2 separate regions of the Homo sapiens genome follow, and region 2 is linked to region 1. The links come from fine-mapping of genetic effects on gene expression. Tissue or cell type: spleen. Region 1 holds a variant in brackets; the other region holds the start of a gene. All regions are shown on one strand. Distances are from middle to middle. Region 1 has its middle 67 kb from the start of C13orf42. Region 2 holds the start of C13orf42 (chromosome 13 open reading frame 42).

Region 1 (16,621 bases):
CCATTCACACTCCTGCATATAGGAGAAGTACTTTATTTGAGTGCGTACTTCCCATTCTGTTACACAAAATATTCAAAAGATGTATACTCAGGGTCAAGATTTCATAACATTAGTAATTTTTACTACCTCAAAATGAACAACCTAAAGTAAAACTGGCATTTTTTTTTACTGCACATATGTGACAATGAGGGATATGATGACTATAAATAATATACTGAAGATTTAAAAAAAGAATATAATAGTTTTGTGCCACTGTCTTGATTCATGCTATAAGGCACCAAATTTTACTCACCAATGCTTATGTGCCATTAGTGCAAATATGAATCAGTACAAAAGGCAAATAATGTCTTAATTTGGTTTTGAAAATAGTTTGGCCTCATGGATTCCTAAAAACACCTTAGGTATTCGCAGGGGTTCCATGGGTCATACTTTGAGAACTGCTGGCTTAAATGCCTTAAGCATCCTTCTAAGTGAATCAGAGGTCAAGGAAGGAGACATCATTGGTGGCTGAGGGAGAGAAGGGGAGGACCAGACATGACAGTCTTCATGACAATGACCTAGTTGAATACTATCTTTGTAAAAATGAAGAAATGGAGGCACAGTGAGATTTGCTCCAAGTCATCCAGCTAGATGGTGGTAGAGCCAGGGTTAACTCCTAGGTCTCCTCCTGACACACAGAGTCTGTGAGCCTCTGTCAAGTTAGGTCTCTCACCGAAATTATCTTACAATTATTTATTGAGTACTTGTTGTGTGCCAGGTACAGGGCTAGGTATTGAAGATATTAAATCAAATGACATTGTCATGATCCTTCAACTTGGTAGTCTAGGAAGCATGCAGATGGGCAAATCAATTCCACTCGCAGTTAGCACGAAGACAGGTGATACAGAGAGCACGGGGGGCTCAGAGCAGGGACGCCCGGATCTGCAAGTGGCTGAGAATGTCCAGAATCGGGATTCTGACACTGAGTTGGGAAGGAAGAATCAAGTTAGCCAGATCAGGGAAAGTGAGAGCTTTTCTAGTGGAGCAGAGCCTGTGGGAAGGCAGGGAAGAGAGGAGTTTGAGTAGCTGGAGGAATGGATGTATGGGATAAATGGCTGGAGGTGAGGAGTGGGTGCAGAGGCTGGGTCGTGGAGGCTGGGTATGTCCACCTAAGAAGTCTAGATTTTATTAGGAAAGCTGTGGGGAGCCAGACAGGCTAGCTGGAGGACAGGCTAGAAAGACAGTCTGGTGCTTTTTCTAAATTCCAGATGGTTGTGACACCAGGACAAATCTTTTGCCTCTCTGGGCCTCTCTTTCCCCAAGTACACCTTGAGTCACACAGTGACAGGCAAGTTTGTTATATGAATTCCCCACCTACCATTAAGAGAGCTGTTGAAAAAATGAGTTCCTATGGCTTAAATTGATCCCATTCTCTTGGCCTGAATCTTGCTACAAAGTGCTGTTCATTTTTCCTATGGGCTTTATGGCTCACCCTGGACTCTGAATAACCATTACATCAGTTTAGTAAGGTTGAACCACGTAAAATGTATCATTTGTAACCTGTTGCCTTGCCAGACTGAATCCTAAAAAGTGTTTCTGTGCAGTGGTTTTCAAACCTGGACAGTCGTCTGAGGCGAGTGGTTAAAAATATATGGATTTTCAGACACTACCTCCTGGGGCTCAGGAATCTGTGTATTTATTTTGCCCTGTGAGTTGCTCTGCTATAGGCAGCCTGGCCCTGATTTTCTGCTCAGATATTTTGGGTATCGCTAGTTGGAACTAACTAAAGAGGAACATATATTGAATGCCTGCTGGTGCCAATTAAACACTGATTCCTCAGTCTCCTGCACATGGATGCATACAAGCACCTATGTGGCTGACACTTTTCATGTTCCATGACAGGTACTCCTCTTTGTGTGAGCTGGAAACATCTAACTCTTACTTCATTTCCCACATTTCTTGCATCTCCAACTCGATCTCTTCAAAATGCTTTCCAATAGTCATTTTTCTCTCTTTCTCCTCTGCATATGAGAGGCTCTGTCATCTCATTGGAAGATATCAATTGGTTTATTTATTTAAAAAAAATTCTTGGTGAACATACTGTTTTACTAAAGCAGCTTGAATGACTACATATGCAAGTGTGCACTGGCTCTGTGGGAAATGTTATATGCAGGATCGTGGAGATCAATAAACAAGGCTGAAAATCCCTGTATAATCATAACAGTCTGGGCACGTCTGGCATCCCAGCAACGTGCAACATATATACAAACCCAAATAAATATTTGACACTAAAATATGATCAGTTCAGCCTACAGGAAAGAACAGGCTGCCAGATCCAGAGATTGGTGAATGGGTGGTCCCATCAGAGGGCCAGGGAGCGCCACAGAGTTTGTTACATTTCTGACGGTCCTGGAGGTCACTTAACCCTTTCTAAGGTCTTCAGAACACATTATGACAATGTGTCAAGTTTAAACTGGGGTCACGTCCACGTGTTTCTGTTTTGCTTATAGGTGCAGAAGGAGGGCACATGTTTTCACAGAGACTTGTGGGCCCCTGGGGGCGAGTAAGAGGCAACTCCAACATGGTGGAGAGTGCCCCACTTAGGCAGCAGTGGTGGTGTACAGCACTCCTCGCCCGAGCAGGCCTACAGCCGGTTTCTCTGAACAGCTGCCTCCGAAGATGCTTAGAAAGCACTGTATAGGCATGGGCCAAAACAGGAACTCTTACAGGTGAAGGAGAATTCAAGCAGCTTCTAGTCCTAGAAGCTAGAGTCCTAGATCCTCAACTGCGTGCACAAGCGTTTCTGGGGCTGTCTGAGAATCCCCAGTGGATGTGTGTGTAGCAGAGAGGTTAAAAAAGATGGAGAAACACAAATCTTGCCCAGTACCTCCTCTATTTTACGGATAAAGAAATCAAGGCCCAGAGGGGGAAAGTGGTTTTCCCTCAGAGCTTATTTGTGTAAGGTATAAGCTTGGAACCAAAGTCTCCTAAACCCCAGCCCTGGTCACCTCCTACTCACTACGCAGCCCCTTTGTTCTCATTGTCATCACAGCTCTCCTAGGATCTGCATGGTGGTTCTCATTTTCCCCAAGCTCTTTCAGATTTGTTATCCTGTTTTATCCTTACCAACACTCCTGGCAGATAGGAAGGGCAGGTAATAATAATTGCCACATTTTACAGAGAGGAAGATGAAGTCCAGAAAGATGATAAAGAGATAGTTAAATTTAGTGATGAATAAGGATCCTCAAACATTAGAAGGTTAGGTATCCAGAGGAGGGACCAGCCCAGTCTGCATTTTCCTAAAGGGTAGAACTAAGGCCAGTGAGTAAATTCCCAGCAGCACAGTACAGGAGTGGTGTGGGCTTTGAAGTTCAGAGCCCAGATCCTTCTCTTGTCAACCGGTGACCATAGCAAGACATTTAATCCCTCTGAGCATCAGCCTTCTCAACAGTACGAGGAATGATAAGTAATAAATTGGTCATCTCTTGGGCCAAAAGCACATGCTTAATAAATAGGAGGTATTATGAGGGCCCAGAAGGGGGTTTCATTTGAACATAAGAAAGACGTTTCCATCAAAGAGAGCAGTTGGTAAGTGGAATGTGCTGCCTTGCAAAGGAATGAGCTTGTTGTCACTGGAAGCATTCAAGAAGAAACTGGAAAACCAGCAGTCAGAAATAGCGTGCAGTAAGAAATTGGACATTTAGAAAATTGGATATGTAGAAAATTCCATACTTCTCGCAGTGTCAAGATTCTATGGTGTGCTCTGGATAAGCTTGAATGCTCTGACCCCTCTCTGTTCTTCAAACATGTTCTCTGCTGCCTAGAAGCCTGTTCTCTCTGTCCAGAAGGCTCTTCTTTGCCTTTCCATCCTTCAGTCTCAGCAAAATCTCCCTTTCTTAGAGAAGCATTCCCTGACCAACCTCCTTCCCCCATTTGTTAACTCAGTTGCCAACTACAGTTTGATGACTCACATAAGGGCCAAGCCAAGGGTGCAAGTCTCAGACTCCCAGGCTAAGCCTCTTTTCAGCAGGCTTGGCTATCTGTTGAAGACTAAAGTCCATCCATAACTCCTGCAACATAGCCAACTACACTGCAAAACAGTGAGAAACTCAAGCAGCTGCTCTACCATTCAGAGAACAAGACTCTATGACCATTGAGTTCCAGTTTACTACCATATATTAAGTTCTGAACATGTGCTCAGTACAGTGCCACTTGCTGGGGGTTCAAAGATAAAAACAGGTCACAATGCTCATCCTCAAGGAGACCAGCTAGTGGGTAAGACCAACAATCTTTATATAAGTTGAGGAAATGCATAGCCTATCCTGGGTACTTGAGAAGGGGTCTCCGGGCTCAAACTGAGGTCCAGGGAAGGCTTCTTGGAGGAGTTGACACCCAAACACTCCAGTGTCTCACATTCCTTATGATCAAGAAGATTATTGTTACATTATATCTTGCTGGGTCAGTGGATATATTCCTGGGGCAAAGCTCCAGCTGATGAGCATTCACTGCACCTCGATTTATCCTCCAGAACTTCTGCAGAAGTACAAGATGCCTTCATGACCTACACAATGTATGATGACGTCATCACCATTAAGCTCATCCAAGAGGCCTGCAACATTCTGGGTAAGTATGAAAGAACTTGTTTTGCTTTCTTAGAGCTGCTGTAACAAAACCCAGTTGATTCTCATTATTTGCATTGGTTATAGTCTATAAAGCTGCTGCAATCCTGAATTAGTGAATACTGCACCATTGTTCCTAGGGGAAATACAGGGTTAGTTTCCTGAAAGTCTCTGGTCACAAGATTTTTGCCAACCAATCAATGCATAACTTTGTTTCATGTGTGCTTCTGTGAAAAAAATACGTATTTAATATACATAGTTGATTCATTCACATTGAACTGCTGGCCAACTGTACTGTAACTCATGCCTGAAGGAGGCTAATCTAACACTGCCTGTTCTCTGGAAGGATGTGACAGTCTTCTTGTGCTTAGGGACACTAGATGGCACTTCAGCCTACATTTGGGGGTCATTCTAAACAGCAAAATCACCAACAGAAAAGCAGAAAAATGTGAAAAAGATGACACTAAATAGACTGCAAGAAGGACACTTGGTTATAGTTCAAACTAAAATAAGAACATAGAGCACAGCCTTGTTCTACCTTGGCTAGAAGCATTCATGTTGGCCGGTGGAAATTCTGTGTCTGTGAATGACCTTGATAGCTCTGTGAGTATTGATTTCGGGCCTACAGATAAATAAGTAGCCAAATTTGTGAATATGAAATCCTCAAATAATGAGGACCGACTGTATCACAACCTGGGTGGCTTAAAACTACAGAAATTCGTTCTCTGTGGTTCAGGGGACCAGAAGTCCAAAATCAGGTTGCTGGCAGGGCCGTGCTCTCTCTGAAGGCTCTCAGGAAAAATTCTTTCCCTCTTCCAACTTCGGGTGGCCCCAGGCTTTCCTTGGCTAGTGGCGGCATAACTCCAGCCTCTGCTTCTGTCTTCACGTGGCTGTCTTCTCCCTGTATTTGTGTCTCTGTGTCTAAATTTCCATCTTCTCATTAGGACATCAAGCATATTGGATTTAGGGTCCATCCTAAATGACATCATTTTAACTTGATTACCCAATTTCCAAACAATGTCACATTCACAAGTTCCTGGTAGACATGAATTTTAAGGGGCACTCTAACCCAGTACAGGGCTCAGGTATGACCCTTTCCATTTGAGTGGCCTTAGGCTTCTTACAGACAAAAATGATGAGCAGCACCGTCTGCACCACTGCCATCATGTTTGGCTTCGATGTTGGCTTTACAGGTGTTGCAATACCTTTAGAATGGTCTGCTATGATTATCTCTGGGTGTCAGGAGGAACAACATTGAGAATCCGCCTATGCCACCTACACTCGTGCTTACCTGGAAATGGACGTGGGGTGCTCTGCAGTGTGCTGAGGGCCCTTCCCCGATCTGCTCTCCATCGCATATTTTCCCATCTGCCTGGACATGAAAATGCCATTGACAGGGTCATAGGAGGGGGACCATGTGTGGATGGTCCCACTGACAATGTACGTGTCCTCCCAGGATGGTTTTTCCTGTGGATGTATTAGCACTGGATTTTTTTTATCTTGTTAATCTGCTCACTCCCCAGGCCCAGAGGGGACAAGGTACAGGACAAAAAAAAAAAAAAAAAAACAAGAAAAAAAAAAAAGAAATTAGCTCTGCCTCTTTCTAGTTTAATGACCGAGGACAAATGACCTAAATAGTCACAGTTTTCTCATTGGTTGAACAAGATCTAATCTTCAGAGTTATTTGGAGGATTAAATGAGAAAATATATGTGAAAATATCATATGTGGTATCTGGCATATAATAGGCTTTCAAAAAACATTCCCTCCCTCCCTTCTTCCCTCATTCCCTCCTTTCCCTCACTCCCTCCCTCCCTCCTTCCCTTCCTTTCTTCTTTCTTCCTTCCCTCCCCTTTGTGTTTCCTGGGCTGCTGTAACAAAGTACCAACAACCAGGTGGCTTCAAACAACAAACATCAATTCTCTCCCAGTTCTGGAGGCCAGAAGTCTAAAGCCAAGGTGTTGGCTGGGTTCATTCCCCTGGAAGCTCTAGGGATAACTTGTCTCTTGCTTCTCTCCCAACTTCTGGCAGTTGCTGGCACCGCTTAGCCTGTAGACACATCTCCCCAATCTCTGTCCCCATCTCCACAGGCCTTCTTCCCTGTGTGTTCACGTGGCCTTCTCATATTGACAGCAGCCTTTGGATTTAGGGCCCACCCTAATCCCTTATGTCCTCACCTTATTTTAACTAGCTACATCTGCTCTCTTTTCAAATAAGGTCACAGTCTGAGGTTCTGGGTGGACATGAATTTGGGGGCACACTATTCAACCCAATACACCCTCGCTTTCTTTATCCTTCCTTCTCACCAGCACTGAGTACACAATGAGCCAGGGCAGGCCTGAGGGGAGGGAGGGGCAGGCAGCCTCCACCGTCCCAGGCTCCAGGGATCTATGCAGGAAGCCGAAGCCCCCCTCTGTACCCAGGATCTTTGATGAGGTTCCTCTTTCCCTTCCCGTTGAACTTCCTTCACCCATTCCTCATAGGCGGTGCTGCCTTGGGTCACTGTGAGAGTGTGAGATGGCATTTAAGGATGATCTCACTCAGACGCTGCATCAGGCCTCATGCTTGTCACCTGGCACCGGGTATAGCCCTGTTGGAAGTGTCAGGCTAGGCCCAGTCCCTGGGAGTGTGCAAGCTGGCTCTTATGCAGCCTGCAGAGGGTCTGGCAGCAGGGGCCATGGTTTTGAGTTGGTTTCATGGTGCCTCTGAGGGCCTAGCAAATTGGCTTGCCATTCTCAGGAACAATTTGTGAAATGATATAGGTTTAAGCCAGTAGCAGGTATCACAGTCATCAGCCCAGCAGGCGTGCCTGAGAACACACCAGGGCAGCTAGCTAATGCTAAGCCCGCAGGGACAGGCAGCTTCTCCAGAGCGCAGCAGTGATGTGTAAAGTGCCCGTGTCGTGTGAGGTATTGAGCTTATTTCCCTTCCCTTTGGATTTCAGAAAAATTATCTGATGATTAAAAAGATAGTGCCAGCTTTACTTGCAGGCAACTGGATCTGACAGATGAGAGGGCTTTTCCCATGGCTTTCACATGGCGCTGTGACTGATATCTACATCTCTTCTCATGTTCCTGGTCATCTCCTGGATGCAGAAGACCTTCCAGGGATCCATATCCAGGAGAGGCCCAAAGTCTCTGCCAAGCTGGGAGGGGGAAGTCATTGAGGCTGAGGAAGCTGGATGTGTGTGGTGCTCAGAGTCCTCTCTGGTAACAGGTGGTCACCTGCTTCCCCTGCCCACTCTGGGCCACCTGCTTCCCCTGTCCACTCTGGGCCACCTGCTGTCTCATCTCATCATGTTGCTCTCTTGGAGCCACAGAGACAAGCAGGGGCCAGAGTTGCCAACGAGGCCTGGCAGGTGATGGTGATCATAGCTAGGAGGAATCTGGTGTCCCAACTGGTTGTTAAAACAACTTCCAACCAGATGTATGTTAGCCCCTGGTCACTTCCCACCTGCATCTTTTGATAGAACCAAGGTTGTGTCTGAGGCTGGAAATAAGGCACAAGGAGTGAAACAGTCATTTGCTCCTTCAGCTCCTGGAACTCAGGCGCCAAGAGCAGCAACACCTCCCGGATGCTTCCTAAAGCCAGTTCCCAGCCTGCCACCACGGCAGCACTTAGAGGGAGGACACAGGCAGCTGGCAGACAGGGCTCACGTGGCTTCCCAAGAATCACGGCTGGGCCTCTCCCCGAATCCACCAACCAGCTCCGCTCTCCAAAGAAGCTTACAGAGAGAGATTCTAGGCCAAAGCTGGCCCAGGAACTGGGAAGTGTCAGTGATACCTGCAAACCTCACCCCTATCCTGTCCAGCCTGTCTTGGGGGGACTCCCAGGCCCTTTTGTCTCTCCAGCAGCTAACACCAGGGGAGGTTTCTGTGGGGCTGGGTTATCAAAAAGCACACAGCATCGAGCTTTCTGCGCTCGAGTCTGAGAGCGGGATGTGTCCTCTTTACAGCACTGTGCTGCTCCCAGGGGCTGCAGGCCTGGAGACCTGGGTTCTCGACTCAGCTCTGCTCCCCAGCTATGGCCTTTTTGTTCAACAGGTGGCAGCAGCACAGCCACCCCAGAGGGTCACCTGTCAGCCTTTATGCTTGACACACCTGCCAAAGAGATTACCTGTTTTGTTTTCTTAAGCATCACTTTAATTTTTTTTAAAAGTATGCGATTACGATGTTAAATATGCTTTTGCAAACCAGACAGACAGATCCCCTCTTGATCCTAATATGTCCACCCCACATAGGCAAAGCCTAGGTGCTGCCCTTGTGGCTGACAATTCTGCACATCTGTGATCCTAGTGAGGGCAGGAGGTCCACGAGCAAGTCCAGTGGTTTGCAATTACCTCCTTTCTTCTAGCTAAGTAAGAGGAGCATCTAGTAACCTTCCTTCCACAGGAAGAATACAAATCATTAGGTGGAAATTCTGTAATGAGAGATGACTACTTTTGAGCTGAAAATCTGGAGTTTTGACAGAGCTTAGGAAATAAAACGGCAAAAAAGCTTACAATGGGTAGTGAAATTAAGCCCACCTTTAGTCTTTTCTTGATTTTATTCCAAGGGATCCCAGCAGCAGAAGGACGTAGTGGCTGTATCGTGTAGTCTTGATTTGGTCTGAGCCCTCTGCGAAAGAACATCTCGTTGTTATTCCAGAATGAGAATGGAGGGTGGATTCTTTTCC[G/A]TCACACCAGCTGTGTGACCTTGGGCTAGAATTTCACTGAGAGTTGATCTCCTGCAAAAGGAATAATACCTTACAGGGTTGTGGGAAGGAATGAATTAAATCAAATAACAAATGTAAGGCACTTAGCAACATGCATGGCACATACTGGGTGTTTGGTAAATGTCAGCCAAATGTTGAATCTGAAGGAAGGATGGGGGTATTTCTATGTTTTGTACCTCTAGATACTGTCCCTTATAAGAAGACAGGCTTTGCTGTTCACTTCAAATGGCTGTGGTAAAAAATTATGTTCCACATGTACACAGGGAGGGGAACAACACACACTGGGGCCTGTTGTGGGGGTCGGGGGGAAGGAGAGCATTAGGAAAATTAGCTCACGCGTGCTGGGCTTAATACCTAGGTGATGGGTTGATCTGTGCAGCAAAGCACCATGACACACATTTATGTATGTAACAAACCTGCACATCCTGCACATGTACCTTGGAACTTAAAAATAATAAAATAAAATAAAATAAATTATGGGCCAGGTGCGGTGGCTCACGCCTGTAATCCCAGCACTTTGGGAGACTGAGGTGGGTGGATCACTTGAGGTCAGGAGTTCAAAACCAGCCTGGGCAACATGGTAAAACCCCATCTCTACTAAAAATGCAAAAAAAAAAAAAAAAAAAAAAAAAAAAAAATTAGCCAGGCGTGGTGGCCTGCCCCTGTAATCCCAGCTATTTAGGAGGCTTAGGCAGGAGAATCACTTGAACCTGGGAGGCGGAGGCTGCAGTGAGCCAAGATCGTGCCACTGCACTCCAGCCTGGGCAACAGAGCAAGGCTCTGTCTCAAAAAAAAAAAAATTATGTTCTGAGCTCTCTGATTAGTGGTCAGCAAACTACATACAGCTTATGGGCCAGATCTGGGCCCTTGCCTGTTTGTGTAAGTCACGTTTTATTGGAACACAGCCGTGCCCCTTTGTTTATACATCGTCCATGGCTGCTTTTGTGTTACAGTGGCAGGGCTGAGTAGCTGCGCAGAGACCATATGACCTACAAAGCCGAAAACATTTATTATTTACTATCTGCCCTTCACAGGAAAAGTTGGTCATTTCATGCTCTCAAGGGTGGATGCAGATCTTTTTCAAGATTCTAAAAATATCTTTTAACCTAAGAACTGCTCTGGACTGAATTGTGCCCCCATGCCCCAAATTCATATTTGGAAATGGGGCCTTTGGGAAATAATTAGGTTGAGATGAACTCATGAGGGTGGGGCCCTCTTGATAGGATTGGAGCTCTTATAGGAGAGATACCAGAGCACTGGCTCTCTCACTCCCTGTCACATGGGAACATGGTGAGAGGGTGACCCTCTATAAGTCAAGTAATCATGTTATCACCTTGATCTCAGACTTCCGACCTCCAGAACTCTGAGAAAATAAATATCTGTTGTTTAAGCCACCCCATCTATGGCATTTTGTCGTGGTGGCCCTAGTGGACTAATATAAGAACTTGAATCAGCTTGTATATCTCCAGAAAGAAATACTCTGTATATATCATATCACCCCAGTCCATTTTTGTGGCTGTCTGTGCTCATGTACATCAAACGGTGTGGCAGTACCTCCAGCAGTGAGATGCCATCACATACCTGCCCCACTGCCGTCACATTCCCAACCCAACCAACATGTGTAGAGGCAGCAGCCAGTCTACAGACCAATGTGTGGGCTGGCCCACATCACCTTTCCACCGAAAGCCAACGTACATCACTGTGGTTTCTCTCTGCCTAGCTTTGAATGTCAGGAATCTTTTCTTCTTGTAGTTTATTTCCATAACATCTATTGGCCTATATCTATCTGAAAGAGTAAATGAGTATGGTGAATGCATTTTTCAAACAAGAAGTTGGGATGCAAAATCGAGTGAACACATGTATGAGATGTGGAATCAGGACAGCCCCAGGAAGCCCGTCGTGATTCTGTATGTCTCCAACTCCCATGAGTCTGAGAGAGCAAGACCCATCCAAAGGAAAGGCTACAGGAAGGACATTTTACTGTCTAACAAAATATACTGGTCAGTTGAAAATCCTCCCTTTGACAAGGGAAAAAGTGTGCTTAGTCACCACTAGTGAGGGCTTTGCTTTCCATGTGGGCTTCAGAATGCAATTTCCCTACCTTGAAGCAATTGCTGGGACTTTTCCAGACCGCTCTGCCACTGCATAGCTCTGTGCTTTCCAATTAGCATAATTCAGGAGGGGACCAGATGGCAGGTTGAGCATTGCATAAGGAATTGTTCTGTATATGAATAAGTGCCTACTTAGTGTGTAAGTGGGTTATTAGTGATCTGAAGCGACAAAATTCAAAACAACACACAACAGCCATTTGGCACAGCTGTGTCCGTCTAGACTTTGCTTGCGAAGACACCCACAGTAAAATGTGTTTCAACAGTTAGCTATCAGCAAATGCCAGCAAGCCTCTCTGCACTCACATCTTTAAAAATAAGAACAACACAAAATTGACAACGTCTTGAAATCAGGCATTATAACGTTTGCTCTTCACTATTCTCCTCTGAGGATGGGACAAGTAACCCAGGCTGTGCAACCAGCCACGAATGGAGACTTGAATTCAGGTCTGCTGATTCCAAGGCTGATGCTTAATCCCACAGACTGGAGGGGAAGTCGACAATGTCTAGAGCAAGGGCTTTGGAATCAGACGGACCTGGGTGAGCCCCCTGGCTACACCGGCTCCTGATAATGTAACCTGGGGTAAATGTTCCCCTGGTAATGCAGCAATGATACCTGTGACGTTTTGCTCACCTTATTTGATTTCTTCTGTAGGACAACAACCCAGGGGGTTTCATCTGTCCTACAGAAGAAATCAAATAAGGTGAGCAAAATGCCTGACACCGAGTGGGTACACAACAAGGTACCTCGCCCTGTCCCTCACCCCTGCTTGCCACCAGATAGACCCCTGGCCCCCTGCTGTGGCCCTGGTAGGGCTGACTACTCTGTTCCAAGGTTTGACGGGAACCAGGAGGCTTCTTCTCTACCAGGCTTCAGCGGAATTGCTTCATCCCTGCAGAGCACCACCTTCCTGAGCTGCCTTAATCGACTTCCAGTTTATTTTTTCTCTGTGCCTGTATAAACTTACGACTACTTCTGAAACCCAACCCTCCTAATTTAGAGTCTTCTTCCTCCTTGCAAACTACAGCATGGACATGGGCAGATGTTTCTTTCCTTTTCTTAGACTACTCTTTCTCCTACTCCAAAATATTTCCCCATAAACTAACTCATGCCTGACATTAGTGATATCATTGGAGAAAAAGAGTATGTGAGATTCTGGCTCTTTTCAGGTATCTGAAGAGTAATCCTTTGGATACCAACGCTTTGGGGGAAAAATTACCCATTTTCAACGGAAAACTTTGTCAAATGTAGAGCATGTACTTCTCTTTCCTGTTGAAGAGCACATGTTTTGCTGGGTGACTCAGGAAGAGTGCCATGAGGAATAGCTCTTGTTGCCTGTGACTTGGGTGACGGGAGGTGGGCAGGGGTCTTGCAAGTCTGGCCCTGAGTGGGCTGTTTGTCCAGGAGGCTCTGCTTTGGTGGCTATGGTGTCCCTGCCAGCCTCACTGGGGCTTCAACAGGCGCTCTCTGTCCCCCAGCCCTGGACAGCCCAACTCTACTCTTTCCAGTACCTTGAGCTGAAACCCAGCAAGAAGCAAATGTTTCCCAGTGACAAAGAAGACCCATGCTTGTTAAGTCAGAAAGTTTGAGTTCATGCAACACTCCAATGTAAAAGCTTGTTAGAGGTCTCCACACCTGGGGAATCAAGCATAGAAGCTTTGTGACCATCATTTTCCTCCTGGAAAAAAAGTCTTGGGTGGGTGTTGTAATCCCAGCACTTTGGGAGGTCAAGGTGGGTGGATCACTTGAGCCCAGGAGTTTAAGACCAGCCTGGACAACATGGCAAAACCCCCATCTCTACAAAAAATACAAAAATTAACCAGGCGTGATGGCACACACCTGTAGTCCCAGCTACTTAGGAGGCTGAGGCAGGAGGATCACCTGAGCCTGGGGAGGTTGAAGCTGCGTGAGCCGTGATAGCACCACTGCACTCCAGCCTGGGCAACAGAGTGAGACCCTGTCTCAAAAAACCGAACAAACAAACAAAAAAACAAACGAAAAAAACCCAACCAAACAAAAAAAAAAACAACCAACCAAAAAAAACTCAACTCCTTTATTTATTTAAAAAAAATGTTTTAATACATACGCAAAAGTAGAGAGAATTGTGTACAGAAGCCCACATACCCTCCACCCAGCTTCACTAATTAACAATATTTTGCCAGTCTTATTTCATCTATCTGATTCCTCCACTCTTTTTCTAGTTTTATTTTTTCTGGAGTGTTTTAAAGCAATTACCAGGTTTCTCACAATTTCATCCATAAATATTTCAGTATTAGTCTCTAACAAGATAAAGACATTAAAAATGTACTGATAATGCCCTGATTATAACTAACAAAATTCATAACATTACAGAGGCCTGGGCTGCAGCTGTATTTCAGCTGGCCATGGATAAACATGGTCTTTACGGTCTTATTATGTAAGATTCCCTATGGTCTTTTCAGAGCAATCAACAGAATCTTTTTTACTTTGACATAATTTCAAACTTGCAAAAGGCTTACAAGAATAGTACAAAGAATTCCCATGTAGTATTTATCCATATTCCCCAAATGTTGACATTTTACCATATAGTGTCTATCCTTCTCTTTATATCTAGATTTATACTTTTTTTCTTGAAATTGTTAGTATATTGCAAATGTGATGCCTTCTTGTCCTTAAAAATTCTCTTAAATAACTACAGTACAACAATCAAACTCAGGAAATGAACATAGATATAGTGCTATTATCTAATCTATAGACCTTATTGAGAGTTTTCCAGTTGACCCAGTGATGTCCTTTAGAACAAAAGAAAATCCTGAATCATGTCACTTATCGTGTCTCTTCAGTATTCTTTGGCTTGGAACAGTTTCTGAGTCTCTTTATGTTTTATAAAATTGGTATTTTTGGAAAGTTCTGGTCAGACATTTTGCAAAATGTCCCTCAATTGAGGATTATCTGATATTCCTCATGATATAATTCAGGTTATGCTTTCCTGGCAGGAAGATCACAGACGTGATCTTTTTCCTTCCCAGTTTATCATATCAGGAGGCATATTCCATTCATTGATCTGTCCTATTATTAGTGAGGCTAACTTTGATCACTTGATTTACGTAGAATTTGCCAGCTTTCTCCACTGTAAAGTTACATTTTCCCTTTGTAATTAGTACCTTGTGAGGAGATACTTTCAGATTATGCAAATATCTTGTCATTTCTCAAACTCCCTCTTTCATAGTTTTAGTATTTATTTGTGATTCTTGTCTGAATTGATACTTATGATGGAAGTCAAATGGTGATTTTCTAAGAATATTATTCCTTTTGTATTTATTCATTGAGTTTCTGTAAGGAAGAATTTCCCCCTCTCCCCCATGTATTTATTTACTTATATCAATGTAGATTTGTGATTCTTATTTTTTAAAAACAGGCTGTAATCCTTTCCTTTTATTATTTATTTTGATGCTCAAATTGTGCAAGAGTTAGCCAGTGAGAGCCACCCTAAACTGGCCCCTGTGTCCTTTTGACATGTCCCCATCATTCTTTGATCACTTCTTTACCTTCTTGCATAACAAGATGTTATAGGCTGATCTCATCCTTTCCCTGCCCCAGCCCTGGAATCTGCCATTTCTCCAAGGCCCTGATTCCTTTTACAGGAGAAGAGCATTTAAAAACTAAGATCTAGACATTAGGCAACCCCACTGCTACTGGGATATCACTGCTTTTAGGCCCTCTTAGTGGACAGTGCTGGAAAATACATGTCATATACACACACACACACACACACACACACACACACATACACACACATACATCCATCTTTCTCTCTCTATATATATATCTATATATATAATATATATCTATATATAATATATAGATATAATATAATATATATAGATATAATCTATATCTATCTATATATCTATCTATATATAGATATAGATATATAAAATATAGATATAGATATATAAAATATAGATATAGATATAGATATATAAAATATAGATATAGATATAGATATATAAAATATAGATATATCTAAAACCATGATAGATTTCATTGTCTTATTATGTTAGATTTTCTAATCCAGAGGCACAGGGTTCATTCTATTCCTCCCCTTTCCATAATTGTAACTTCATTCTCAGATAGGGAAAAACCTGGCTCCCACTATCCACAATATATTTACTTGTTCAGAACATAGTTTCAGAATTGCTAACCCACACTGCTGTGAAAAGGAAGCCTACTAACTACAGTAAAATATTTGTTTAAAGTTCTTTTTGTTTTTGGCCTGAAGACACAGTAGTGTAAATACTATGTTCAAATATTACTGGGTTAATTTTTTTCCTGGGTGATTATGTTATTCAAAACTGTTCTGTTGAAATGCTGTTCTGTGAATTTGTTTCTGTTTGTACTCCATCTTAGGGGTTTTCTCTATCCTTGTTGATCTTATATTTTATTTATTTTAAGCATATGAAACATTAACATGACTCCCCAAACCAGAACTGTTCAAAAAGTTATGCTCAGAAAAATGTCATTTTCCCCAACTCCACAATTTTTCTAATCTTTCCACCCCATTCCCTACCAATGTCCTGTAGGTAACCAATCTCAATAGATCCAGGTTTATCCTTCTGGTGTTTAATTTTGCACAAGTAGGCAGATAGATGATTATTTCCTTGTTTTCCCTTCTTTCTTACATTAAAGAATACTAAGCATAGTATAAAGTCTCCCCTGCACTATCAGAAAAACATTTTAAGGCACCTAAGTTAGTTTAGTTCTTTCTTGCAGTTTCTAACCATTTCCTGTATATCTTGGATCCCCTATGACTTAGCGGGTTCTTGGAATCTTAAATACACTGATGTGAAACTGTATAAAAGACTAAAACAGGTGCTGATTTTTTTAAAAAAGCGGCCTTTATTCCCTGCTGGACAAGCATTCTCAACTAAGAATTCTAGAAGAAGCTCCAAACCCATTACAGGTGGAAAACACCACACTCAAACCCAAGATCCTTGTTTGGGAAACAGTTCATCTCTCAGCCAGATGTCCTTTCCTTTTAACAGAGCTGGGCATCCACAAACAAAATAACCAGAGCCTGGAACAAACAGCTTCATGGATTTTTTAAGTTTAAAGATTTGAAAGTCAAACAGGCAGTCTTTTACCCAAAGCTGCCACTCTTACTTGAATATAACTTTGCTTGGCTTACACGCAGCCCAGTCCTCCTGGCAGAGGTTCTTGGGAG
Region 2 (16,621 bases), 67 kb before region 1:
TTAGTAACAATGGCAACTATTATTGAGTGACCATTTATTGAGTGCCTATAAATCAGCGCGGACTTCAATACTTTCCTAAACTTCCTTGATGGTAATAATCCTCTGGGATGCTTTCTTTTTTTTTTAAAAGGAAAAATTCCCAGATTCTCCGATCTCTTTGAGTCGGGAGTTCCTCTAGAGGGCCTTGGGAATCTATTTGTTTTTAAATTTATCATTTTAGCCATTTTTAAATGTACAATTTAGTGGCGTTAAGTACATTCACACTGTGCAGCCACCACCATCCGCCTCCAGAACTCTTTTCATCTTCCCAAACTGAAACTCTGTCCAGATCAAGCACTAACTTCCCATTTTCTCCTCTCCTCTGCCCTTGGCAACCACCATTCTTTCTGTCTCTATGAATTTCATTACTCTGGGCACCTCATATAAGTGAAATCATACAGTATTTGTCTTTTTGTGTCTGTCTTATTTCACGTCGCATCATGTCTTCAAGGCTTATCCATGCTGTAGGGTGTGTCAGAATTTCCTTCCCTTTTAAGGCTGGGTGCTATTTCATGGCAGGTATAGACCACCTTTGGTTATCTATGCATCTGTTGATGGGCATTTGGGTTGCTTCCACCTCTTGGCGATTTCCCCTCTCACTCTGTACGCCATGGCAGCAGGAAAGCATTCAATGCTTTTCTGGCTCTGCTAGAGACAAGCTGATCAGACAAACGAGGACTCTTTTTGAGCCATTCACACCCACTGATATCACCTGTGAATTCACCAGGTTTAGTGAAGGTTACTAAATTCCAAACAAACACTCTGTTCCCAGTGCACCCAGGTGTTATTGACTGAACCAGTTCTGAAACCTCTCATTTCCTCTTGATGACTTGAGGATCTGCAGCTCACTCCATGCTTGCAGCCACAGGGCGTGCCATACACCTGGGGATACTGTACACCTGGGCATACTGTACACCCAGGCATACTGTACACCTGGGCATGCCATACGCCTGGGCACACCATACACCAGGGCATGCCATACACCTGGGCACACCATACACCAGGGCATGCCATATGCCTGAGCACACTGTAGACCTGGGCATACTGTACTCTTGGGCATGCCGTACACCTGGGCACACTGTACACCAGGGCATGCTGTATGCCTGGGCACACCATACACCAGAGCATGCCATACACTTGGGCACACAGTACACCTGGGCATACTGTACCCTTGGGCATGCCACACACCTAGGCATGCTGTATTCCTGGGCATACTATACCCCTGGGCATACTGTATGCCCAAGCATGCAAATAAGGCCAGGTTGGCTGTGTCACTAGCACCCTAGGCTACAAGATCATCTATTTGGGGTGCTATTCATAATTATGCCATATACAAGTAGTAGACAAACTGGATGTATGGTCACTCTATGTGCAGGGATTGTTTCACCTAAATATGTTCTGAGTTCTTGCTGCTGCCTGAAGAAGAGTCACCACTTCTCATCGATGAAAGCAGATAGCCGAGGCTGCCTGTGTAAAAAAAACCACCACCTTGAAAGCCCCCCATCAGGGCAGCTTCACTCTCTGCCCCAGTGTTGACTGACTCCTGATTCTAGGGAAGACTCACTGAGGCTAATCCAACAGCAAATGCCTGGTGGCCCAACACTTGGAGCCCCACAAAGCAATCAGTGTCCTTCCATCGATTGAGGAGGTGAAGATGTGAGGAAGCGTGAGGTAGGAGGCCTGTCGTGCCCCTCTCCAGGTGTCTTCTGGAGGACTGTTGTGGAGGAGGCAGTCAGACCAGTTCCCTGTCAGGGGATAAATAGGAAGACTTTGATCTTGTGAAAAGCTAGAAAGTTGTTTTTCCCTCAATGTCACTACTCAAGGTCCAGATGAAGAAAATGTCTTCTTCATCTTATTTCCCTTCTCCTTCCTAACTCCACAAATGAAACTGAGCCATCTATCAGAGATTGTTGCTTGCCTCCCTCTGACCCCAGAGCTGCTATAGCAACAGAAGTTGGAACTGGACACAAGATCATGCCACAAAAGACCACATTTCTTAGCTCCCCATGCAGCTCTGGGTACCTTGTGAGTAGATTCTGGTCAACGGGAGGTGATTACAAGTGAAAGGAATGTGCAAAGCCTTTTCCTTCCCATTTTTCTATTGGCTGAAACAAGGATACTTTCTTCTGAGCCACTTTTGACCATGCAGGCAAGAGCAACCTACTTAGGGAGTGAGGGAGCAATGACATGGAAAGAGCCTGGGTCCCTGAGTGTTCACGTGGAGCAGAGACATCTCCCCTGGATTAGCTTCCTCTGCACTGTTACACAAGAGAAAAATAAATATGTATATTCCTATTTCAGTTATGGAAGCCAAACTGATACTCTAATATGATAGCCTTAAATTAGAGAAAAAAGAAAAAAATAGGAGGGGAGAGGAAGGTCTGGGAAGAGTGGTAAGTAGGAGGTAGGTGCAGGAGAATGTGAAAAAAATACTGGACCGCAGATATTTTATTTACTCCAACCCCAAAAGTACCATCAGTCTCAGCCTTCTACCTTGGGTTTGGAAATTCACACTCAATTTTTCTGTTGATTGTCATGTAAACGTTTGATAAGGAAGCATAAGCATTCATGAGAAGACTATATCTTTTTTCTAAAAGTTCCAATAAAATGCTGCAGTATATCACTTTAAAATGATTAAAGATAAGGCTCAGTCCCTGAATTTGTCTTTCCAAGGTATTATATAATCCACTCCTAATTATTCACTTTCCTTTTACATTTTTGGAAAATGAGATCTATTCCTACAATGATTTATGAAACTCAATTTTGGGCACTATAATCTATTTTGCTATTAGTCTTTGCTGAATACATTTAGAAAAATAAACTGACTAGGATATATAGTATTCTCAAAGCTGACTACAAATAATTTGGAGCTTATTCTTAGAAAAATCTGTTCACTGGCTGCTGTCCAATGACGTCCTCCTTACTTCCACCTGGATGGCCATCTTAGCTTCCTAAGGAAATGTGGCAGTCTACTATACCTGTGGCCCCAATGAGCCATTCTTCTAGTACTCACACCCTTGTGTAGTCCCCTCCCCTTAATCTGAGTTGGTCCTGTGATTTGACTAAATCAATAGAATTGGGCAGGAAAACCAGGGTGCTAGTTCCTAGTTTCAGCCTGAAGGCTTGGCCGTGTCCACCTTTGAACTGTTGGATGCCCTGAGCATCCATTTAAGTATTCCGGCCACCTCACTGGAGAGACCATGTGGAGAGGGAGAGGCTCCCCATTTGTGCCTAGACCCAGACAACCCACCACTGAATGCAGCCACATAAGTGCCACTGGCACATCCAACAGAAGCCCAGCTAAATTGCAGATTTGTGAGCAAATATAATGATCATTATTTTAAGCCAGGGAAGTCTTGGAATGGTTTGTACATAGTAATAGATAAACAAATAATTAGCCTTTCTTGAATCACATGGAGCTCCTACTTAAGTTTCCTAAATGGAATTTTCTCACAATTCCATTTGCCACATCATCTTCTGTTCTAAGTTTTTAACCAGCCAGGGTCACCATATACTGTTGTGTGGGTTGTACACTGTACCCAGGCACCTGCCAAGGGAGCCAGTGGGGACTGCTTACCTGGCCTTCACCTGGAGAGAGCACTTTTTCTAAATTGAGTGAAAATGTCTTATGGGCTCCCAGAGGTCTGATAACAGGCACCTTGTAGAATTAAATCCAAAGTTGTTGAACTGGCCTTTAAGACCCTCCTTTAACTGCCTGTTGCCACCTTCACCCTTCCCTTCCAACTTTCTCCAACCCAGCCTCTCATTACTCATCTCCAAGCTTGGCTTAGCTGGGTTACCCTACCTCCCATTGTCAGACGTGCCCCTTCTGCCTGATGGGCAGCAATGTACACGATGCTCCCAAATTAGGGCCACGCCTTCTAAAGGAGGATATAGTCCCGCCACCAGCCCTTTGTGTACTCAAGCACCAGTACATTTTCAGTCTTGTAAACCTCAGAGGATCTAATGTTTGCTTACAAGGACTTTTTTTTTTTTTATTAGAGGTTTCCAAGCATGTTAAAGTAAGAAGGGATGGTGTAGAGATGTGTTATTCTGCTTTTGGTCTTCATATGTGGAGGGCCGAGCCCAGGGAGATTTGGAGCTGCTCTTTCCCCAGGGAACTGTGCTTCATCTGTCAAAGATCTAAAGCACAGGACCTTGCTGTCTGAGCCAGGGAAGCTGGTCTCCAGGGAAAATTCTTTCCTCAGAATTCATAGTGCAACCAGAAAGCTAAATGTTCCAATACACTGTGCAAATGGACTTGGACTTCGTGACATGGGATACACGTTGTCGAACTTTGTAATCTTACCCTTCATTCAATATTCAACACATTTATTTGATCTCTTCCTTTTCTCAGCGTCCCCTTCTTCTTCTGTGCTCTTCCTTCGTTCCCCATCACCCCCACCTCCCTGCCTCTTGGAAGGACTGACTCAGAGTCACCTTCCTGTCAGGGGAGTGGTCGAGGGGATTTCTAGATGTGCAATTAGGGACCAAGGTGCTGATTGTTTTCTTTGATTTGGGACTCTAGATGAAGTACAGTTGCAGGCTGGTGGGATTAAAGGAACCATGACCTTGAGAGGTGTGTGCCACAGACTATCCCCGGTTACACCATGATACGAGGCAACGTCCCCAACTGTAGGGAGGAAAATGATGGGGTGCTCACCTGAATCCATGCCTGAAAGGGACAGGGTGCCTGGTCAAATGCCCCGTAAGCAGGTGTGCTAGTCACGATAGGGGGCACCAATGAACATCTTAGGGAAACTTAGCACTCTTCAGGATAGTGGGTAAAACTAGCAGTTTCTAGCTGAATATTATTAAGGATGGCCCATTTGAGCCTGTGATCTCTACAAATATTGCAGGATGAAAGGCCCCTTGAATTATAATTGGATTCCAAATATTTACCTGGAATAATAGCTTGGCAACTATATGCTGGGAACTGTGAAGTAGAAGTAGTAGTAATCATATTTTTATATTCCTATAAGTAATAATTACTATGATTGAGCAAATATGCATATTAAGTGCTCTCTATTATCTCATTTATTTTTGTTGTTTTTTAATTGTATTTATTTAAGGTATATGACATGATCTTTTGATATACAAAGTGATATGGTTACTACAGTGAAGCAAATGAACATATCTGTCATCCCACATGGTTATCCATCTCCCTCCTTTTTTGACAAGAACACCTAAAACCTATTCTTTTGGCAGAAATCTCAAATACAACACATTATTATTTGATGTACTCCTCATGTTGTACGTTAGAGTCCTAGACTTGTTCATCCTACATATCTGCACATTGCAGCATTACTCACAATAGCCAAGATACGGAAACAACCAAAGTGTTCACTGATGGATGAATGGATCAAGAAGCTGTCTGTCTGTCTGTCTGTCTGTCTGTCTGTCTGTCTGTCTGTCTATCTCTATCTATCTATCTATCTATCTATCTATCTATCATCTATCTGTAGTAGAATATTATTTAGCTTTAAAAAAGAAGATTCTGCCACTCACCACAAGTGAACCTGGAGGACATTATGATAAGTGAAATAAGCCAGACCCAGAAATAAAAATTCTGTACGATCTCACTATATGTGGAATCTTAAAAAAGAGAAAAAAAAGTCAAATACACAGAGATAGAGAATAAAATGGTATTTACCAGAGGCAGAGTGGGGGTGCAGGGAGGAATGAGAAGATGTAGGGCAAAGGATATAGTATCTCATTTAATCATTACACCAGCCCTATGAAATAGGTGGTATCTAGTTTTGGAGGTGAGAGATCCAGAGTTCAGAGGTTTAAATAACTTTCTTAAGCTGGTAGGTAGTTGACCTGTGATTCAAACTCTGAGTAAGGCCCATACTCTCATTCTCATCCTGGCCTGCCCTTCCAGTCATGAGCAACACCACAAGACCAGGCTCATCTAGGAGCAGGCAGAGGCTCAGTCAGCTCTTCTACACCTGCTGCCTGTGGCTGCCCCAGCCCAGCACTGCTACATGGCAAATCCTCTGGACTGCTCAGCCATCACTCTGGGGTTCTGCACTTTACATTTGAGAAATTCTGGAATAAAGCAAGTTTTGTTACACAAGTCACTTTATGCAGATTCTCTGGCCAAGCCTCAAGGCTCTGACACCACCAGGAAGAGGAAATCTGGTCTGAGCCCAGTGAGAAGCACATAGGCAGTGGGGCTGATGTGGAGGGGCTAGGCTGGGGGAGAGGATGCAGGCCCTTCTCTCTCCCTGCTTAGATGTTTGTCCGCATTCCACAATGTGTAAAAAGAGTCAAGCCTGGGGGGACTGATTTGGGGTTTGATGGGCACTTGTAGTTTCTTTGTGATACACTTTGTGGCTAGGTATGGTTGCTCACTCCTGTAATCCAGGCACTTTTGGAGGCCGAGGCAGGAGGATTGCTGAGGCCAGGAGTTCAAGACCAGCCTGGGCAACATAGCAAGACCCTGTCTCTACTTGAAACACAAACACACGTACACACACACACACACACACACACACAAAATACACTTTGGAAAACCACAAGGTGATTTCACACCCGTTTCTTATAGCTGAGGCTGTGAGAAAATCTAAGTAAGATACGTTAAAGGCAGTCACTATTCTGGATGAATTTCCTCCACCAGCAGAGGTGACGAGTATTTTGTAGGGAGAAAGCATTCTTTCCCCTCACTCAACTCAGTAGGAGCTCCAGGAGGGAGGCGGCTTCAGGACAGGACTGGCGTCGGAGGTGACTGACAGCAGTCAGCTGCTGGGTCATGGCTGCTGCTTAATGTCCTGTCCATTTCGTGTTCACGAAATGTTCTGCAGGTTGATGTCAGTAGAATTTTATCTCAATTTTCTTTCTAGGTCTGACCCTTGGGAAGAATCCAGCACGAGGTAGGAGTGAAGAAAGGAGAATGTAGAAGACAGTTTTATTCCCTTTGTGATCAAGAGGTTAGGTCGCTTGTGGCATTCTGGATATGGAGGTAGACTTCATTTTTATTGATTTAAACTCTCTAAATCCATGTAGAATAAGCGTAATTGTAAACCCACAGGCACAAGCTACTGAGAAAGGCTGTGTAGTCATAGCCTGTGGCTACCTCTGAGAAGAAGTTCAGTCAGCACTTACCCATCCCGGGTGCTTTGATATTATGCATGAGTCAAGGTAGGGAAGTGGTTTGGAGAGAGACTTCCCCTGGATACCTGGGAACTCGGTGACTTTATGAGTTCATTGCAGTGAGGGGGCATTGGGACCAGCATAATGGGCTGGAAGCTGGACAATTGGGTCTGAGGACTGGTTCTGCACTCGCCTGATTGAGACCACAGACAAGTCTCATAACCTCTCCAGCGCGCCCCTTCTTCATCTGTGAATTGATGACCACTAAAGATGATAATGGAAATAATGCTTCTCTTCCAAGGAAGCTGCAAATATTAAATAAGTTAGTATGTGTGGAGATGCTTTATCATCCCTAAAGCATGCTACAACTGTGAAGCTGAAATGCTCCACATGTGAGGGGCTGTGCTACCCCAGTGCTTAGAATGCCACAGGCAGAGGATGCCCTCAACAGGAAAACATTTATAATGATATTTTACAGTCATACAAAGAAAAGTATCGTTATTGTTCTGATGCAGGATAGAAACATTTAAAAATGTTTTTATTTGCATCAGAGACCTCTGAATATCTGATAAAACCGTGAATCTTTTCTTTCTCTTAAAACACACACACACCCCACACACACACAGAGCAAACAGCAAAAATAAACCATGCTAATACATTCATTCAGTAATGCTTTACATACAATTTCTGGGGGCTCATACTTTCTCTTAGCTCATAGCTTAAGAAAATGCCTGACCTAGAGACTGGTGCAGGCTTGTACTCTCAGACTGTAGTCTAGGAGAGAAATAGACTGCATAGAAGAATGAACAAAATAACAATGTTTAGCATCTGCCTGAGAAAAATGCTACAGAGAACATCTCTGGAATTCTAATAGATTCCTACAGCCCTCTTGAAAAAACAGTTTATGTCTGATGTTAACTAGTCTAAGTTAAAAATGTGCTCGGGCTAAAGAAAGTGTCTGCCCCACAAATGTGGCCACCCTTCAGCTCACTGATGCTTCTGTGCAAAAAGTCGTGGTCCGGATATCTGAATCCTCCTCCTGCCTCCACAATGGGCTGCTATCCGGTAACGGCTGTGAGGTCCATTACCGCAGGGCGAGGCTCTTCCAGGACGCTCAGATGCCTGCTCAGAGCCCAGCTTATCGGGGGGATCTGCGAGCTCCTGTCAACGCCCTGGTGTGTCCACCCTGGCCCATCTCGGGGGACTAGATTTTACCCTGAGCAACACATGATTTTTGGGTAAGGGCTGTCCCTGCTAAGTAGAATTTCATTTTGGATTCAGAGAATTCAGAACCGGAGTCAGCTCAGCCCAGGTGGAAAGGTAAAAATTCACACCAAGATCAACTCAAACTGAGTGAGACCATGGCCAGCGATGGAAAGTGAAAAGGAAAGAAAATAACTGAGCAGGCAAAGCTCTGTCCCACTTTCTTCATCCAGCTGGGGCCTTCCACGGGAGAGCACTGAAGGTATTTGCACTCAATGCTTCATAAAGCCAGCCAGGGCACTCATTTTTAAGTTCACAGTGCGCCACCTTCTATCTTCGGGTTGTTTATGGCCTCTTGGTTATAGGATGTAAACATCCCCCATGGGAGATGTGCAGGTTACCCACCTGATCAAGCCGGTGCTCCCTGGGATCCTAGAGATCAGAGGCCTCCTGGAAGGCAGATGGTGCGAGGCCTGGATGTCGGCTTCTCTCCCCGCATCTAGATCAAGTGGCGGCAGCACAGGCAGCTGGAAGGTACCCACAGAAAGAAATCGAGCACTATGTTCAGAAAGATCCACTCCATCTTTAACTCCAGCCCACAGAGAAAGACGGCGGCCGAGAGCCCCTTCTACGAAGGAGCCAGCCCCGCAGTGAAGCTGATTCGAAGCAGTTCCATGTATGTGGTCGGGGACCACGGGGAGAAATTCAGCGAGTCCTTAAAGAAGTACAAAAGCACCAGTAGCATGGACACCAGCCTGTACTACCTGCGGCAGGAGGAGGACCGGGCGTGGATGTATTCGCGCACCCAGGACTGCCTGCAGTACCTGCAGGAGCTGCTGGCCTTGCGCAAAAAATATCTCAGCAGCTTCAGTGATCTGAAGCCCCACCGCACCCAGGGGATTTCCTCAACCTCCTCCAAATCCTCCAAGGGAGGGAAAAAGACTCCTGTCCGGTCTACTCCCAAAGAAATAAAGGTAAGTGCTGCTGAGCAGTACAATTTAGATGAGGGTTTTTCTGAGAGCCTTGGGCAACTGTTTGAAAGCTTCTTCCTACCTCTGCATGGCTTAATTAATCTGACACATTCTGAGCCGCGGCGCAATAGTCCTCAGATGCTTTATGCGGCCATATCCCCAGCCTGGGGAAGGGTGGCTAAGCCCATGTTTATTACTCATTTATTTATTATTAACTTTATTTTAGGTTCAGGGGTACACATGCAGGTTTGTTATATAGGTAAACTGTGTGTCACAAGGGTTTGGTGTACAGATTATTTTGTCACCCAGGTAATAAGCATAGTGCCTGATTGGTAGTTTCTTGATCCATGTTTATTTTTAATACCCAGGAAGCAAAAAGGAGCAGGTAGTGGTGTCCACAGAGCAGCTCGGTGGGGAAGACATGGGTTTTGGTGTCAGGCGGCACCATATTTGCATTGCACATCTATCAATTCCTTCCCAGTGTTATAGGTGAGATAATGCTTGCATGGCATTTGGATGACAGCAAATCATTTTTCAACAAATTGTTGGTTTTTAAAAAATTATTGTTGTCACATCTAAAAATCCTGGTGAAAAGTGAAATCATCACATGACTAGATGTTTTCAAATATTGAGGTGCTTAGCCCCACGCAAGCCAAACAACTGGAAAATTCCTCCATCTGTACCTCAGACCAGGCATGTGGTGGCTCAGGCATAGACACGGAGAGAGTCTGTGTCTCTTGGGAGATTCCCGGATGGCTTTGGGCACTGGAGGTCTCCAGACAGTCACAAGCATGAAATGAGTGAAAGAAATAATTTGCATTTATCTCTTTGTTTATGCTTATTGCAGTGTTTTGTATATACCAACTTTTCTTGAGCGTCACAATAAAGCCAGTACAGTAGGTGGGGAGGAACTCCTTCAGTATCACAGAAGGGAAAACCGAGGCTCAGTGACCCACCTCTAGGTGCTAGGTCACCTAATTTTAATTATGAGCCGGCAATTCATTCAGTTACTCTTTCCTTTATTTCCTCAGACTTGTATTTATTTAGAGACAGAGTCTCCTCTGTTGCTCAGGCTGGAGTGCAGTGGCATGATCATAGCTCACTGCAACCTCAACCTCCTGGACTCAAGTGATCCTGCCACCTCAGCTTCCCAAGTAGCTGGGACTACAGGCACCTGCCACCACACGCGGCTAATTAAAATTTTTTTTTTTTGTAGAGATGGGAGTCTTGCTTTGTTGCTCAGGCTGGTCTCAAACTCCTGACCTCAAGCAGTCCTCCCGCCTTGGTCTCCCAAAGTTGCTGGGGTTACAGGTATGAGTCGCCAAACTCAGCCAGCTTTTATTTATTTCTAATGCCCGTAGGTTAAGGCTGTTTTGTTGTATACTTCCATCAGTCATTTTCCTGATGACCAGATGAGATGTTTGAAGCAGGCCTGTCTCCCGCTTCCTTGCTTTCTCCCCAGAGTGTCCTGTAGGCCGTGCAAACTCCATTAATGTTGAATGACTGACTGGCCCACTATCAAATCTCTAGGGCTTGGCCTAACCCAATTGGTTTCAACTGTCTGCATGTTATACCAGGTGGGAGCAGTTTAAATAATCATTTTAACTCTAAAAGTATGTCAGTGTTGGGGGCCCATAAAAAAGGGTCCTAGTCACGAGTCCTGGTGCTGACTCTGTGGCCAGCCAGCTGTAGATCTGTGGGCCAGCCACCTCTGATGACAGAAGGGGTTGCAGTGGTTTCTGGACTCCTTTCCAGCTTGGATATTCTGGGGTAGTAGGCACTGGCTAGATTTCCTCTAGGTACTACATTTCTCTGCAAATGGAGCTCTCTCTTATAGGACCTACCTCCCTTCCTTGTTGAGCTATCTGAAGATGGAGGGAATAGAAGCAGAATGACCAGTTCTAGCCCTTTGAATGGCTGTGCAGAGGCACATGGGCCTGATATAACGTAGGGATCTCCTTCGGAGATGCCTCTCACCACAGCGCAATCAGGAAAGAGTTTTGAAAGGACACTGAAGTCAATCAGACCAAGATTTGAATTTTAGTTCTGCTATTTACCAGCTGTGTGCCTTTGTTAAGGGAAGTTCACCTCTCTGGGTCTGTTTTTCTGTCAGGTAGTAATGGAAATGATAATGTGAGGAGTAGGCTCCTGCACGTAATTGTTCCTAGCACATACCAGGTACTTACTCCAGCGTTCACTGACTCTGAAATGTTGGATACAGGAGGCTCTTAGCCGTCTTTTCAGCTGCTGTCTTTCCCCATGGCTCTGACAGAAACAGCTGTATGCTGGGCCTGCCTGTGAAATGATGGGTTCAGGCTTCATGGCTGGTGGGGTGGCCCATGGCTGCCTGGGTCTCTGTGCATTGCCGGGACAGGGGACCAGAAGGAATCCTTTGCCCTGGAATGCCGTTACCCCATGCTTTGGGAGAAAGCTCTGCTGACATTCCAGGTTTAGGGAAAACACCATTCTTTCCCCTGACTACCTACTATGAGTTGAACTGTATCTCCTCAAAATGTATATGTGGAAGTCCTAACCCCCAGTACCACAGATAGTGACCTCAGTTAGAAACTAGGTGATTGCAGATGTAATTAGTTACGATGAGGTCATGCTGGAGTAGGGTGGGCCCCTAATCCCATAGGACTGGTGTTTTCATAAGAAGATGGCCATGTGAGGACACAGAGATGCAGGGAGAATGCCACGGACAAAAGCCAAGGACCTACCAGAAGCCAGGAGAAAGGCCTGGAACAGACCCTTCACCAGCACCTTCAGAGGGAGCATGGCCCTGCGGACAGCTTCTGGCCTCCAGAACTGTGAGATCTATAGCTCTAAGCTACAGAAGCTACCCAGTTTGTGGTGCTTTGTTACAGTGGCCCTAGGAAATGAATATACCCCTCTATAGAATTAGCCTCTTCTCTTCTCCGGCATTGGTCTGAACACACCTCTATTTTAGCTTTCATCACATCCTACTGTGGTTTGTTAAAATGTGCGTCTCCCCTGGTGGACTGCAGTGAACTTGGTGAGCTTGAAGCTGAAACAGTATCTTTCTCATTTTTCTATCTCCAGAGCATAAAAGTGAATACTATCAATCATTTGTAGATGCTTTATAGCCTTTAAAAGTCTGATGTCTTTTGTGCCATACAGAGGGGAGAGCCGGCCTCCATATAGGGAGGGAGCAGTGTTCTCTGTGACACCAGGGCACCATGGCAGGCCCTTTCTGCTGCCCTCCCTCCCTCCATCCGGATGCAAGCCCCTGGCCTGGCCACAGGACCTAAGTTCCCTTGTCTGTCCCTCTTTTGTGGTAAGATAGTGGCTTTTAAACTATTTTGATTAGAATCCATTGCAGTAAGAAACATATTTTGGATATTGACCCAGTTTACCCAAACACACAAACGAAACAAAAGTTTTATGAAATAGACTTACTCCTGTTCCTTGCTTAGCACTCTGATGTTTTCCAAAGCATTCTATGCTATTCTAATTTTTTTTTAAAAAAATTGTCATGACACAGTAACTTGATTTCACAAGCCATTACTGGATCAAGACATATGGCTTTCATGCTCTGGAATGAGGCTTTCTAACAGGTCCCATTGACATGTGAATGGCATCCAAGGCCAGGGTACCAAATGGTCTGTTACCCCAGCCCCCTGGAGATACCCAGAGCCTAGAAGACCACCCATGTGGGTCGATGGGAGGAGGAAGTCAGGACACACTAGAAGCGAGGTGAGCCTCGGGTGGGTCTGGGAGCCCCTCCTGGGACCCTGCATGGTGGGAGTCTCTGCCAGGCCCTGTGGCAATGTACTCCTCCCTCAGAATAGGTCATTATAAAAATGAATGAATGAAATACACTTTTTGCAACATTTTAAAATCAAAACAACAAAAAAAATCCGTACGTGAGGGTTTTTGTGTCAGTGTTGGGAATGAGCTGCAGTTTGGGACTCATTGTTTAGGTGCTAAAAGGTTAGAATTTCTAACCCAGGGCATAATGTGTGTGGCAGAAGGATGGCATGTTTGAAGTGTGTCTTGTCAAGGAATGTAGAGTCTCTGAACCAACAGGACAAGCCTCCTCCTGCTCTGGGCACCTTGGGTGTTTCTTGCCAGTCAGGAGGAGCAATGATGTTCTCCTCTACACCCACTTCCCCTGCTCCCATGCAATCAGCTGTATTCCTGACTTCTAATCACCCTCCAAACCTGACCTGTTGGCTATTAGCCTCATTCTATAAAGGGGAAAACTGGGGCTTGGGGGCGTTAAGAGATTTGTGTAAGGCCATGCTCCTGACGAAGAGAAAGCCAGGATTTGATCCCAATCTGTATCGTGCCAGAACTCACACCCTTGTCAATGTATCCACTTTGACTGGAAAACATGTTTTGATATTGTATAACCTAGAAGATGCAAGAGTGTGCACCTTAGGATGTGTACTGCAAAGGCTGTTTTATCCTGCACACCTGGGCCAGGGAGAGTCATTAGGGAGGCAGCTGCGTCATACTGCACGTGGATTCTGTGTAGGGTGAAGCCCTCCCAAAGTGGGAGAGACTGGGCTTCTTTTCTTCAAGAGAAACCTGGCTGAAAGGAAGTGGCCAGAAGGTATGCTTTAAATTGTTTTCTTTCCACAATCCGTGGATGGAATTTATCTCCATCTTGACTTCTTTTCACATGGCTACCTGTGATTCCAGTTTTACTCTAGGTCTCTGTAGCATTGAAATATTGAGTTTGTATATCATCTACTTTTGCACTTCTCAGTACACACTAGGAAAAGAACTGAGGAAACAGTGCAAGCACAGCTACAATCGGAACTTCATGATGGGTAGGTATTATGTCCTGAAATCATTTTTCAACAAGATACTTTCATATCTCCCAGCTCATTCTACAAAGTATCTGAGATGAAGAATCTATGGCAGCTGAATTAGCTTCTGTGTAGCTGAATTAGCTTCTGTATCATGTCGAAACTCATACTGTCAATATATCTACAGCATCTTTTGACTGGAAAACGTATTTTGATCTTGTATAACATACAAGATTCAAGAGCATACAGAATTGTTAAGTAGCACCAGAAATTGGAAAATCAGGAGAGAAAAAAAATCATAGAAAATCAAGACCACTCAAAATAATATGCAGATCATAGAAGCTAATTCAGCTGCCATAGATGAGCCTTAGATTTGGCTCTGTCCTTGCTGGAAGCTAAGATAAAAAGAGCTGGGCTTGTTTCAAAATTCTGATGATCTGAGAAGAACCATACCCATTGCTTAGGGGAGTGAGATTTTCCCCCTGGCTTTGAATTTCAAAATATCTCATATGGCACTTGACTTAGGGAGTCTTGTGTGATGTGGTTAGTGATGCCCTTAATAATATTTTAGTAACAGTTTATTAATATATCACTCACTTGTCCCTTAACACATATCGATTGAGCACATACTATGTGTCAGGAGCTGTTCTAGATGCTGGTGAAGAAGACAAAGTCCTTGTCCTCATGGGGGTAGTCGGTCTTGCGAGAGAGCAAGACCAGAATTCCTATGGTGATTTCTCAGAGCCCCAGCTGTAACCACACAGGGTGTGGTCCTGAACTGCATCTTAGTGAGAGACTATGGATTGGCAGCTTAGCTGAGCTCAGTAGCTTCTGCCAGCCCCTTCTGAGCCCAGGGAAGAATTCAAATGCCAGAGGTATGGATACATCACACACCCTTCCCAATGGCCTTTGTCAAAATCCTCCGAAGAATTGGTTCACCCCAGGAGAGAAAAATGTCTGTGAAAAGTAACAAGTTGTCCTGCTGTGTTTTTTGCTATTTCCACTCCACCCTGCATCCTAGCATGTTAGACAGCCGATTGCTCCCTGTGGAGTTTGTTCCAGGGTCACGTATGGGATGTGACTGGCATCAGCCTCTGTGTGTGCCTGTCTCATTTGCTTGTTCCTGTTAATTTCTTCAAGCTGCAGCCTTCTCCTGCTATGACGAGCCCTTGGGTTATTTTACTTCTCTCTTTTCTCACCTACTCATAAACATCACTTTTCTTAGCTTGGCTTTTTTTTTTTTTTTAATATAATAGCTTTAATTCACATACATAAAACTCACTCTTTCACAGTGTACAAGTCAGTGGTTTTTAGTCGATTCAGTATTGTGTAATCTTCACCACCATCTAATTTGGAAACATTTTCATTACGAATTTAAGCTTTATTTTAGTGTGGTACAATAAATGTAACATAACTTTTACCATTTTCACACAGCACTTCATGGTTCCTGAAATGAGTGCCTTTTAGTGTCTTCAGATTATGGGTAATGAAGTCTATTACAGTTAACAAATTCTTAAGAAATTAAATACTTTTCTCAAACTCCTGGACTCAGGCAATCTGCCCACCTCAGCCTCCCAGAGTGCTGGGATTACGGGTGTGAGCCACCACGCTCCATGTACTAAATGCTTTTCTTTGAATGACTTTGTATCAATTTTTTTAAAAGTAAAAGTGCATACTACTAGATATCCTTCAAAATGTTAATAGCCAGATAATAACCAGGGTCTTTCACACTAGTCTCCCATGAGCTTTTCCAAATTATCATTTATATAAGTGTATAATAATTCATCCAAAGGATTATTAAGCCCTAATTAATGTATTTTTAGGACACTTTATTAAAGTATTGTTAGTAGTACCCTAGAATACGAATTCCTTAAAAGATCGTGGACCCTCTCAAAGTACCTCATTTAGAAATCAGGAGAATGTTTTTATAAAAGGTTTGACAATTATTTCTTTAAATATGAAACAGTCTTTTAAAGTAAAATATTTTAATATTACCATTTTAACTATTTTAAAGCGTACAATGCAGTGGCATTAAGTACATTCACAATGTTGTGTAGTGATCACTACCATCCATCTCCACAACTTTTTCATTCCAAACAGAAACTGCACCCATCGAACACGAACTCCTCATTTCCCCCTTTCCCCAGTCCATGGTAGTCTCTGTTCTACTTTCTGTCTCTGTGAATTTGCCCATTTTAGTACCTGACATAAGTGGAATCATATTCATTCTTCTGTGTCTGGCTTATGGCACTTAGCACAACGTCTTCAAGGCTTGTCTGGGTTGTTGCTTGTGTCAGAGCTTCCTTTCTTTCTTTTTTTTGAGACAGAGTCTTGCACTGTGGCCCGCGCTGGTATGCAGTGGCGCGATCTTGGCTTGCTGCAACCTCTGCCTCCCGGGTTCAAGTGATTCTCCTGCTTCAGCCTCCTGAATAGCTGGGACTACAGGCGCTCACCACCACACCTGGCTAATTTTTGTATTTTTAGTAGAGACGGGGTTTCACTATGTTGGCCAGGCTGGTCTCAAACTCCTGGCCT

The links.
Region 2: it holds the start of C13orf42, and the variant in region 1 is fine-mapped to the expression of C13orf42 in spleen (GTEx, PIP above 0.99).

Annotation. Positions count from the first base shown.
Region 1 is chr13:51,036,201-51,052,821 of GRCh38, reverse strand. It overlaps the pseudogene GUCY1B2. Among named protein-coding and RNA genes, the nearest start is that of C13orf42, 67 kb to the left of the region's middle. The variant G/A (reference allele first, on the strand shown) is at 9,271.
Region 2 is chr13:51,103,486-51,120,106 of GRCh38, reverse strand. It overlaps C13orf42 (chromosome 13 open reading frame 42), which reads left to right and starts at 8,833. Exons shown (of 4, transcript NM_001351589.3): 1 at 8,833-9,311. The coding sequence starts at 8,898. RefSeq lists enhancers at 6,492-7,691, 8,376-9,575.